3 linked regions of the Homo sapiens genome follow. The protein of the gene in region 1 purifies or fractionates together with the protein of each later gene. This does not show direct contact. Each region holds a gene or a part of one and is shown in the gene's direction. Other genes may lie near its edges.

The links.
Region 2: the proteins of DPH6 (region 1) and PUS7L fractionate together in Homo sapiens (co-fractionation; one large-scale study listed by BioGRID). This does not show direct contact.
Region 3: the proteins of DPH6 (region 1) and NENF fractionate together in Homo sapiens (co-fractionation; one large-scale study listed by BioGRID). This does not show direct contact.

Annotation. Positions count from the first base shown.
Region 1 is NC_000015.10:35,448,590-35,452,244, reverse strand, and holds part of DPH6 (diphthine--ammonia ligase), read left to right. Parts: intron 1-1,441; coding exon 1,442-1,560; intron 1,561-3,655. UniProt on the Homo sapiens protein: Amidase that may catalyze the last step of diphthamide biosynthesis using ammonium and ATP. Diphthamide biosynthesis consists in the conversion of an L-histidine residue in the translation elongation factor (EEF2) to diphthamide.
Region 2 is NC_000012.12:43,741,655-43,745,309, reverse strand, and holds part of PUS7L (pseudouridylate synthase PUS7L), read left to right. Parts: intron 1-2,754; coding exon 2,755-2,853; intron 2,854-3,655. UniProt on the Homo sapiens protein: Pseudouridine synthase that catalyzes pseudouridylation of mRNAs.
Region 3 is NC_000001.11:212,442,850-212,446,604, forward strand, and holds the end of NENF (neudesin precursor), read left to right. Parts: intron 1-1,489; coding exon 1,490-1,593; intron 1,594-2,980; coding exon 2,981-3,157; 3' UTR 3,158-3,530; downstream 3,531-3,755. UniProt on the Homo sapiens protein: Acts as a neurotrophic factor in postnatal mature neurons enhancing neuronal survival. Promotes cell proliferation and neurogenesis in undifferentiated neural progenitor cells at the embryonic stage and inhibits differentiation of astrocytes.

The DNA of each region.
Region 1 (3,655 bases):
AGTCCTCTCTGAGAAAGTGACATTTAAGCAAAGGCACGAAACTAGTGTAATAGGCAAGAATGAGCAGGCAGCAGTGAGTGGTAGGATGGAGTGAGAAGAGAATAAGTAGTAGGAAATAAAGTGCAGGAACTAAACAGGGTGAGATCCATGGAGTGATGGGGAGCCACTGGAGGGTTTTGAGCAGAGGAATCCTATGATCTATTTTATGTCTTCTTTTTTTGTTTGTTTGTTTTTTGAGACAGAGTCTCGCTCTGTCGCCCAGGCTGGAGTGCAGCGGCGCAATCTCGGCTTACGGCAAGCTCCGCCTCCCAGGTTCACGCCATTCTCCTGCCTCAGCCTCCCGAGTAGCTGGGACCACAGGCGCCCGCCACCATGCCTGGCTAATTTTTTGTATTTTTAGTAGAGACGGGGTTTCACCGTGTTAGCCAGGATGGTCTCGATTTCCTGACCTCGTGATCCACCCGCCTTGGCCTCCCAAAGTGCTGGCATTACAGTCGTGAGTCACCGCGCCTGTCCTATTTTATGTCTTAAAAGGATCACATTGGCTGCTGTGTTGAAAATGGATTTTAAAAGGGTGAGGGTGGAAGCAGGGAAGGAAATTAGGATGTTGACATGAGAGAGAATGGTGGCTCAAACGAGGTTGTTAGCAGTGGTGTTAGTGAGGAATGATCACATTCTGCATTGTGGTAGATTGGATGTGGAATGCGAAGAAAAGGAAAGGATGATTTCATTTCACATTTTTTAATCCTCTTAAGAACTTTGAAAGGAACTATTTTTGCCCCTATTTATGAACTAGGAAACTAAGCACAAGGACTTAGATTTTACTTGACTTCAAAAGCCATGCAGCTAGAGTACAAAATGAGGTTTTAAATTCAGATGTGTCTTCACTCCAAAACCTATATTTTTTCTACTTTACCAATAATGGAAAATATCTAGTACAGTGCCTGCAGCATTGTACTTTTTTTCTTACTATTTTCTTTTTATTCAAATTCTTAAAAAAAAATTCAAAGTTAGTAGATAAGAATAGTTCACATAACTGTAGCTATTGTTAATTTAATAAATATGTGGCTATTTTATTAGGATAAATTATTGGCCCACTTTACATATGCTTCAAAATTTTGATACCCATGAAAGTTTTAAAAATGAGAGTATACTGGCATTTGTAAATTCTTTTACATAGATTTCTAAACTAAGAGTCTTACTAAAATTAATATTTCTAGTGTGCCTGGAAATTTCATTTTTATCAGTTTATGCATAACCCATGGAAATTAAATATGTTTATGTTGTATATATAAACATTATGCAAAATATGTTTTTAAAAGCATTTTCAATGCTAAAATCCTTGAACGAAGCATTATGTTTCAAATCAAAGTAATTGCTGTGGATCCAAGTATAAAACATTAAGAGATCATCTGACTTTCTTTTTCTTTTTCTTTTGTAGGTGTAAAAGGCTTAATCTCCAGCCTTTAGCTTATCTTTGGCAGAGAAACCAGGAAGATTTGCTCAGAGAGATGATATCATCTAACATTCAAGCAATGATCATCAAAGTAGCAGCTTTGGGTATGCAGCCAAACTATCAAGGGAGCTGTTTGTTGCCACATAGATGATCTCAGTTCACTAATAAGTAGTTAAAATGAACAAAGAAAACTGATTTAGAATATAAAAATGTGGAGTCACAGCTGAAGAAATTGAGTAAGCACCTTCCTTGCATAAAGAAAAGGAAGTTTTAAAGTGGTCTTTTGACCATTTGCCGAAGTGATTACTAGTAAGGCTTTTTTTTTTTTTTTTAACATATAACAGGTTCTAAAACTGATATTGTATTATAGTCCTTCATTTTAAGTTCTTTTTTTTTTAGGGTTTGGAATTTAGGCTTGTAGGAAACAGGAAATACAAGGGTTATTTTTGTTTTGTTTTGAGGTTTTTTGGAAGCTTTTTATAATATGTATTTGACACAAAACATTTTCCTTGTATTTTTTAGCATATTTTGAATAATGCTAAAATAGAATGATGGTTTTGTTTTTGTTATAAAAAATAAATAGGGTACTGGTTTTTGTTGGGGATGGTGAGAAAATCATGTTTGAGAAAAAGTTATCTGATTAGTTAGCATAGACACAGCAGGCAGGTGGTAATCTGATTCAAGTATGGACATTACATATGAGCACATTTAATTTATTTGGAATTTCTATAATTATATTCATTTTTGAGAAACCGTAGGGTTTGAGCCCAGTCTGTTCATTTCGTGAACCTGTTATAGAAAATGCCCTGAAACCTGAGAGTTCCCAAAGCCTAAATCATGTACCTCATTTGAAAGTGTTTACCTTGCAGATCTCTGAAATAACAAGGTCTCAAGCTGTAGAAGATTTTACAGATACATTCAGTTTTTAAATAAAATTAAGAGAAATAGTACAGACCCCATAATATTTCTCCATGGTAAATACCAAGCTACTGTATTCTTGCTGAAGTTGAGGTGTTGTCTTCAGTTGAAGCCTTTATTTAGTGAATCTGTAGTTGATCTCCTTAGCTGTTAAAACAAGAAAGATTGAGTGATATTATGTTTTTATTTCTGAGAAAAGGTTGCTGAGCAGCTCTCATGATTAACGTTATTATATTTGTCATATGAATTTCTATGTGACTCTGTACAGAGTATTCCCTCTTGCTTTTTCTTTGTCTCTCACTCTCTCTTTGAATTTTCTAAGATTACATAATTCCATAATGAAGTTCACGTGACGTCTCACTGAAAGGTACACATACTATTCCTTTTACTGCCCGATAGATAAAAGACTGGATTAGGACCCAGAGAGACCTCCCTTATTGAAAAGATAGTCAAAGAATTTGACCTTATTGCCATCTTTTAATAGTATATAACCGATATTGTGTGTTCTTTCATTTCTATCTGTGCCTCTCTGTAGGGATTAGAGATGGGGAATTAGCTTTATCAAGCCTTTGGGTAAAATGTAAAAACTGAGCTGATTTGTCTTTGGCATCTCAGTAACAAAAATATAGATCTGATTTTAACATTTACAGCACTGCCTGTGTGCTGACTGCCTATAGGTGTGCAAAGATGAAAGTTATTCTTTAGAATAATATTAAAGAAAGGTTTATTAAATGGCACAGTACTTCTGAAGACATAGAAACATATAAATGATGCAATATAGGTTGCTAAGCCTTTTTCCTCCCATTTAAAATTATCAGAACAATTTTAAATGGATTTAAGCCAAAAAAAAGGGACTTTTTTTGGATTTAAGCAAAAAAAAAAAAAATGAGACAATAAGACCTTTCTGTGGGGGAGAGGGATCAGTAAAATTTTGTGGACCATTTTTCTATGAAATGGTCTTATAATAGAAAAAGGTCAGTTCTACATGAATGCATACAAATATATTTTTTATAATTATGGTATGTAACCTTTATGTCTTATAGGCATCAATGAACTCATAAAATTTCTGGCTTCTTTGTTTCATTATAATGTTTTAAGGGACTCATCCATATTATTGACTGAAGCAATAGTGTGTTTATTTTTATTGTAGTATAGTGTTCCCTTGTGGGAGACTGTAATTTAATTAAATTTAATTAACACCACAATTTAATTGTCCATTCTATTATTGATGACATATAGGTAGTATCCAGTTTGGCACTGTGATAAACAGTGCTGCCACGA
Region 2 (3,655 bases), on another chromosome or scaffold:
CCAAACATATCATAAACTTTATGTTTTACAGTAAAAAATTACTTAGCATAAGTTTCTAAATGACATTTTCCCGACATTTAAATGTGCACATACAACTATAGTTTTCAAGACTAGACCATCTTAGATCATCTAGACATCAGCAAACTTTATACTGTAAAGGGCCAGATAATAAAATTTTTGACCTTTTAGACATATGGTTCCTCTTGCAACTAATCTACTGCCATTGTATGGAAGCAGCCACAGACAATATATAAGTGAATGAACATGGCTGTGTTCCAATAAAACTTTATTTACAAAAACAGGTGTTGGACCAGGTTTCATTTGTGGGCTATAGTAGTTTGCTAACCCCTGATCTAGATGAGTAGTTCTCAACCTGAGGAGCTTTCAAAAAATTTCACCCATTGATATCTACTCCTGAACCAATTAAAAAAGAACATTTGGGGATGCAGGTTAGGCATTAGTACTTATTTTTGAAAAACTTCTTAGGTGACTGTACTTTAGAGCCAATACCGAGAAACACTGATTCAAGTTTCTCACCACAAAGACCTTTTTACACAATTTTATACCTGTCCAACAGGAAAACAAACAAAAACTGGTTATTAATCTGCCTTGTAGTTAGGAAAATATCTTCCAACTAAAGATCTTTTAAATCCAGCACTTTCATCTGTATATGGAAGTTATCTGATTATATACTCTTTATATGTTTTGTTAGTCCATTCTCATGCTGCTATGAAGAAATACCCGAGACTGGGCAATTTATGAAGAAAAGTGCTTTAATTAACTCACAGTTCCGTATAGGTGGGGAGGCCTCAGGAAACTTACAATCATGGCAGAAGGCACCTCTTCACAGGGTGACAGGAGAGAGAATGAATGCCAGCAGGGGAAATGCCAGACACTTGTAAAACCATCAGATCTCGTGAGAACTCACTATCGTGAGAACTCACTCTCATGAGAACAGCATGGGGTAAAACCGACCCCATAATTCAATTACTTCCCACCGGGTCCTTCCCATGACATGTGGGAATTGTGGGGATTACAATTCAAGATGAAATTTGGTGAGGACACAGCCAAACCATATCATATGTTGTTTTACCTTCGTTTTCCTTGACCCACCTAAAATTCTACTTTTTTTTCCTCAAAAACTGTTACTAAAATGATATACTTTAAAAAGGTAGAAGTTTCTTTGAACTCTGGTAGCATTTATTCCCTGTCTTTCATTTGTTATTTATGAACATACAGCTGCCTATTACAAAATTCCCATTAGAAACAATCTTAGTTTTAGCCAACTTCCATTAGTTCTTATGATGTGAGAAAGGAATTGAGAAACCCTGAAAATAAGGAGTCTTTGAAGTTTTGTTTCAAGGGGTTATATCTCTGTTATAAACCTTTTGTTATATCTAAGTACTTTGAAGGGTTAATTTAAAACTCTTCTGGTTACTCTAGGACGTCATCTTATGTTATTTTTTCAAATTTGAAATAACTAAAAATATTTATGAGATTTAATTCAGGGAGTACTTATTCTATCTGTAATTAATTTTTTTTTTTTTGAGACGGAGTCTCGCTCTGTCACCCAGGCTGGAGTGCAGTGGCACGATCTCGGCTCACTGCAAGCACCCCCTCCCGGGTTCACGCCATTCTCCTGCCCCAGCCTCCTGAGTAGCTGGGACTACAGGTGCCCGCCACCACGCCCAGCTAATTTTTTGTATTTTTAGTAGAGACAGGGTTTCACCATGTTAGCCAGGATGGTCTCCATCTCCTGAGCTCGTGATCCGCCGGCCTTGGCCTCCCAAAGTGCTGGGATTACAGGTGTGAGCCACTGAGCCTGGCCTGCAATTAATTTTTTAAATGACATGAGATAAAGATGCAATTGCTTTTGTACCATGCTGATAACAAATTGGCTCCGCATCTTTTATTAAAAAGTTCTTGAGTTGGTATTCAATAATAATTGTTGACTGAATAAATGCATACTCTCCTCATAAAGTAAGTGTGGAGGACTCTTGTCTTTCAAGAAACTGTCTGGGCCTGGTGTTTTCTTTGTGAGCACATGTTTAATGACTGACCAATTTCTTTAATGGTTGCGGTAGTATGTTACAGTTTTCCATTTCTTCTGAGTAATGTGACAGTTTTAAAACATGGCCTGTATGGTTCACCTCCAGCAGGAAGTGAAGTCTGTATTCTTCCCCTGGAATACAGACTGTTCCAGGTGCTGGAATAGCTGGACCGGTAGAGTACTGCTGAAGTGGCTCCATTGTCTCAGGTCAGCCTTTAAGAAACTGAGATGAACTAAAGAACGAACGTTATGTAGAAAAGAGCCAGGATATGTGGGGTTTGAAAGTGAGCCTGTTCTTGACTCCCGACATCTCCAGACAGCCGAAGAGTCTCAAAATAAGAAAGAGCATCAGAGTAGGGATCAGATCTTGGTACTAGGTGATCAACTCATTTTGGAAGCCCAGAACTTTTCTGGCTTTAACACTGAAAATCTCACATCCCAGGAAATCCCTCAGTAACATGAATGGAAAGCTGACGTATTTTTAAAGTTTTCTTCATTGGTTTTATGTTCTAACTTCTAATTCTGTGTTTTCTTTCCTTTTCTTTAATTTACAGCATTTTTCAGACCATTTGGTCCCTATGTGTATACTGCTGATTACAGAGTTATTCTGTTAAAATAATTATGAAGAGAAAAATTCAATTGTGTATTTTGACACATAATTGTATTTATATACTCTTAATTTGTTGATTATTTTGTATACATAGAAAAAAGGCTTTGTGAATTACTATGGACCACAGAGATTTGGGAAGGGAAGGAAAGTTCACACAGACCAAATTGGACTAGCTTTGCTGAAGAATGAAATGGTATGGATTTTGAAAAATGTAATCTTATCTGTTTCTGTCAATTATACTTACTACATAACCCAGCTCCTTGCTTTCTTAACTCTAGCATATAAATGCATGTAAACACTCACATACCAAATATATTACATTACTGAACATTTAGTAAGCTGCTGCTCTGTCCTTGATATCACATTACAAGAAAGCCAACAGTGTGAGTGTCCTTGTGGTTAGTACATATTTGAGATTTGACACAGAAATGACCATCACTTTCCAATTTTAGTGAACTGAATAGAAGATTTAGAGGAAATTTTGATCCTACAATCCCAGAAATCAGATATCAGATCATATAAAAGATAGGAATCCACATAAGTCCAGAGACTAAAAGGGGAGCAGTAAATTTGAAAACAAAATCTGACTAGTTCAAAATGAAGCTAAAAATTCATGTTACAACTAAGAAGCTGCATTTGCTGAAATATTAAAAGCGTATGTGTGTATATCTGCTTTTAATTTATATTTTTTATATGTAATTACATATTTTTACACTAAAATGGAGTGCACATAATGGAGGAAAACTATAAAACTATAAAAATTATATATTTGAACAAATGCAAGATTATTCTTATGATAGTATCTCGTTCACTCACCTGTGTTCTAATATGATTTCTTGAGTGGAAGAGAAAGAAACAGTAAAAGATTTTGTGAGAAGCGTAGTGCATTGAACATCATCTTACATATCAAATAATGTTCAGAGCTGATGATTTAGACCACATCTGCAAATCTATAATTAGTTCTGGGTTTCACATTTCAAAGGAGATTTTAGCAA
Region 3 (3,755 bases), on another chromosome or scaffold:
CTCTGCCTCAGCCTCCCGAGTAGCTGGGATTACAGGCACCACCACCACCGCTGGCTAATTTTTTTGTATTTTTAGTAGAGACGGGGTTTCACCATCTTGGCAAGGCTGGTCTTGAACTTCTGACCTTGTGATCCACCCGCTTCGGCCTCCCAAAGTGCTAGTATTACAGGTGTGAGCCACCACACCTGGCCTTCCTTCCATTTTAAATGAGCAGATTGAGTTAATCTTTGTCAGTGTTTTACTTCAGCAGGGGCTTTTTTCCCCTGATAATGACATGCTTCTACTCAAAAGCCTTTCATGACTTTCCATTGCCTGTAGAATTAAATTCAAACTTAATGATTTACCCTAGTTGAAGCAATGAGAGAAGTGTTCTTTAGTAAAGAGTTGGCATTATAGAACATTACAGAACATTTTAGTGCCATTTAATGTAACTACTAATGATATCTTGGAGATAGTTTTGTATTGGTTTATCTATTATTTGATAACAAACACTGCTGAATGGGAATAGATTTGGCTTCCACCAACATTTAAGAAGAGGGAACATTTTTCTTGTTTGCATCTTTAATTTTTTTTTTGGAGACAGTCTCGCTCTGTCGCCCAGGTTAGAGTGCAGTGATGCGACCTTCTCCAGCTGCCAGGTTCAAACGATTCTCCTGCCTCAGCCTCCTGAGTAACTGGAATTACAGGTGCACGCCACCATGCCCAGATTTTTGTATTTTTAGTAGAGATGGGGTTTCACCATGTTAACCAGGCTGATCTTGAACTCCTGACCTCAAATGATCTGCCCATCTTGGCTTCTCAGAGTGCTGGGATTACAGGCGTGAGTCACCGCACCCAGCCTGCATCTCTAATATTTTTAAGAGACTATTTTCTCAGTATTAACACTTAGGTGAAAAAACAGAACGAGAAGGGGGCTAGGCACAGTGGCTTATGCTTGTAATCCCAGCGCTTTAGGAGGCCAAGGTGGGCAGATCATGTGAGCTCAGGAGTTCAAGACTAGCCTGGGCAACATGGTGAAACCCCATCTCTTCAAAAAAAAAAATACAAAAATTAGCTGGGCATGGTGGTGGCACATGCCTGTAGTCCCAGCTACTCTGGAGGCTGAGGTGGGAGAATTGCTTGAACCCGGGAGGTGGAGATTGCAGTGAGCCAAGATTGTGCCACTGCACTCCAGCCTGGGCAAGAGTGAGACCCTGTCAAAAAAAAACAACAACAAAAGAGGTTGTAGGGGTACTATTCTCATTTTATATTTTCTGAAAATCCCTGCTCAGCCTGCATGTGTGACTTACTTCACATTTAGAGTAAGTGGAATCCAACCTGATGGCTGGGGTGGCTTACTGGACTTTGTATCGCCATTGTTTGGCCTCTCCGTGAGCGTGGAGTCTTTTTTAGGATTGGGTGCGGGCCTTGGGAGCGCCCCCACGTGCAAGCTCCTGGTTACTCTGCATGTAAACCCACGCTTACGTCTCTTCCTTCCTTCCCACTACAGAGTTTTATGGACGAGGAGCCCCCTACAATGCCTTGACGGGGAAGGACTCCACTAGAGGGGTAGCCAAGATGTCCTTGGATCCTGCAGACCTCACCCATGACACTGTGAGCCAGATTATAAGCCTTTGTAAAATCCTCTACCTCCTTGTCCATGCCTTTTTCTCTTTTTCTTTTTCTTTTCGTGTGTGTGTGTGTGTGTGTGTGTGTGTGTGTGTGTGTGTGTGTGTGTGTATCTGGGCAAGAGCAAGCCTTCCTAATTAGCTTATTTACCCTTCGGTCCACTTGGTATGGTGGCCAGGCATTTTCTTGAAATAGATTATCCTACCATGTCATCTCGACTCAGAAACCTTCCATGGCTGTCTGTTGCCTAGAGTCAAGTCCAAACTCTTATGAACTTGTGATCCAACTCAGTGATCATCACAATTTGGCCCCAACCTGCTTTGGCAACCTAATGCTCCTTATGGTCTGTACCTGCCACCCCATCCCCTCAGCCCCTTACAGCCTTGCTATTAGTCTCTGAGACCCATTCCCCAGGCCATGCTTGGTAGCTTTGTGGATGAACTGGGTTGGGAAGAAAGGTCTCCCTCTATGCTTATATTTCTGTGAAGGAGAAGATAGCATTAAAACATTTTTTAGGCCAGGAGTGGTGGATCATGCCTGTAATCCCAGCACTTTGGAAGGCAAAGGCAGGTGGATCACCTGAGGTCAGGAGTTTGAGACTAGCCAGGCCAGCATGGAGAAACCCCGTCTCTACTAAAAATACAAAAATTAGCTGAGTGTGGTGGTGCACACCTGTAATCCCAGCTACTTGGGAGGTTGAGGCAGGAGAATCGCTCGAATCCAGGGGGCGGAGGTTACAGTGAGTTGAGATCATGCCACTGTGCTCCAGCCTGGGCAACAGAGTGAGACTCCATCTCAAAAAAAAAAAAATTTGTTTTTTAAACCTATTCAAGGTCTAAATAATTCCAACAGTAAGGCTGGAATTTCCTCTAACTGTGCTCAACATCAAACTGACATTGAGATAAATTGAGATGAGCCAAACTCATAACAAAATGAATGTAACAATATTACAAAAATGAATGAAGAACTTAAGAAAGGGGAAGGTGCCAAATGTATAATGGGAGGAGTGTAGAGAGAGGGATAATGGGAGCAGTGTAGAGAGAGGGAGGATTAATCGGGGGGAGGAAGGGGATGCAGATGCAATAGGGCATGCCCTGCCCCACCCCAGCATGCTCTCTGGAGTCTTTCATCCCTTCCATCAGTCAAACCACAAAGTGTGATGAAGCATTGCTCCCCGTATGTTATACCCTCCCACCCCCACGCCCCCCCCACAGCAGTGTCTCTTAAGCCATTTGTCCATTATTTGGTTTGTTGAGATATCTTTTCTCTTGCATTAGGGATGTGGGAGGCAAGGCAGGGATGGAGAAAGGCCAGTGCCAAACACTATCCACTTAACCCCATCTCCTGTCTTTCTTGGGCTTTTCTCCCCAAGACGGGTCTCACGGCCAAGGAACTGGAGGCCCTGGATGAGGTCTTCACCAAAGTGTACAAAGCCAAATACCCCATCGTCGGCTACACTGCCCGGAGAATTCTCAATGAGGATGGCAGCCCTAACCTGGACTTCAAGCCTGAAGACCAGCCCCATTTTGACATCAAGGATGAGTTCTGATGTTCCCCCTGCAGGAGCAGGTTCTTGGGAGCGTGAGGCAGGAAGACACTAGGTGCTGAATCTCCTGCAAAACTGGCTGCCTGGAGGCCCTGAGCCACCCAGATCTGAATAAAACAGATGCTTACCCTGGAAGAGCAAATGCCTCCTGTTGTCCTTGGTCAGGGGTTCTGTCTACCTGGGGACCCCTGTCTGCACACCAGGGATCAATAAGAGCCAAAGTGGGACACCTCCTAGATGTCAGTATCAGCTGGCTGGGCAGTGGAATTTTGAGCGACCTTTACTTTATACTTTTCTGTGCTTGACAGATTTTCAGCCATGACCATGTTCACTTTATAATCAAAACAAAAATAAAGGTCCCATTTTTACAAAAGGAGAATTCTTCCCCAGAGGCCATTTCCTTGGAGCCCACATAAGCGGGTGGGCTGTGTTGTTCTTCCATAGTCCTGCGGGGCCGGATGGTGGGGCATTTAGGCAATGGGCAGGAAAAGAGAGTGGTGAGGTGGGAGGGTGGGCGATGGGAAGGGAGCCAGGAAACCCGGCTGGAGTGAGGGTGGGAACTGGCTTCAGTGCACGTGCAGCTGGAGATTGGTGAGGAGGG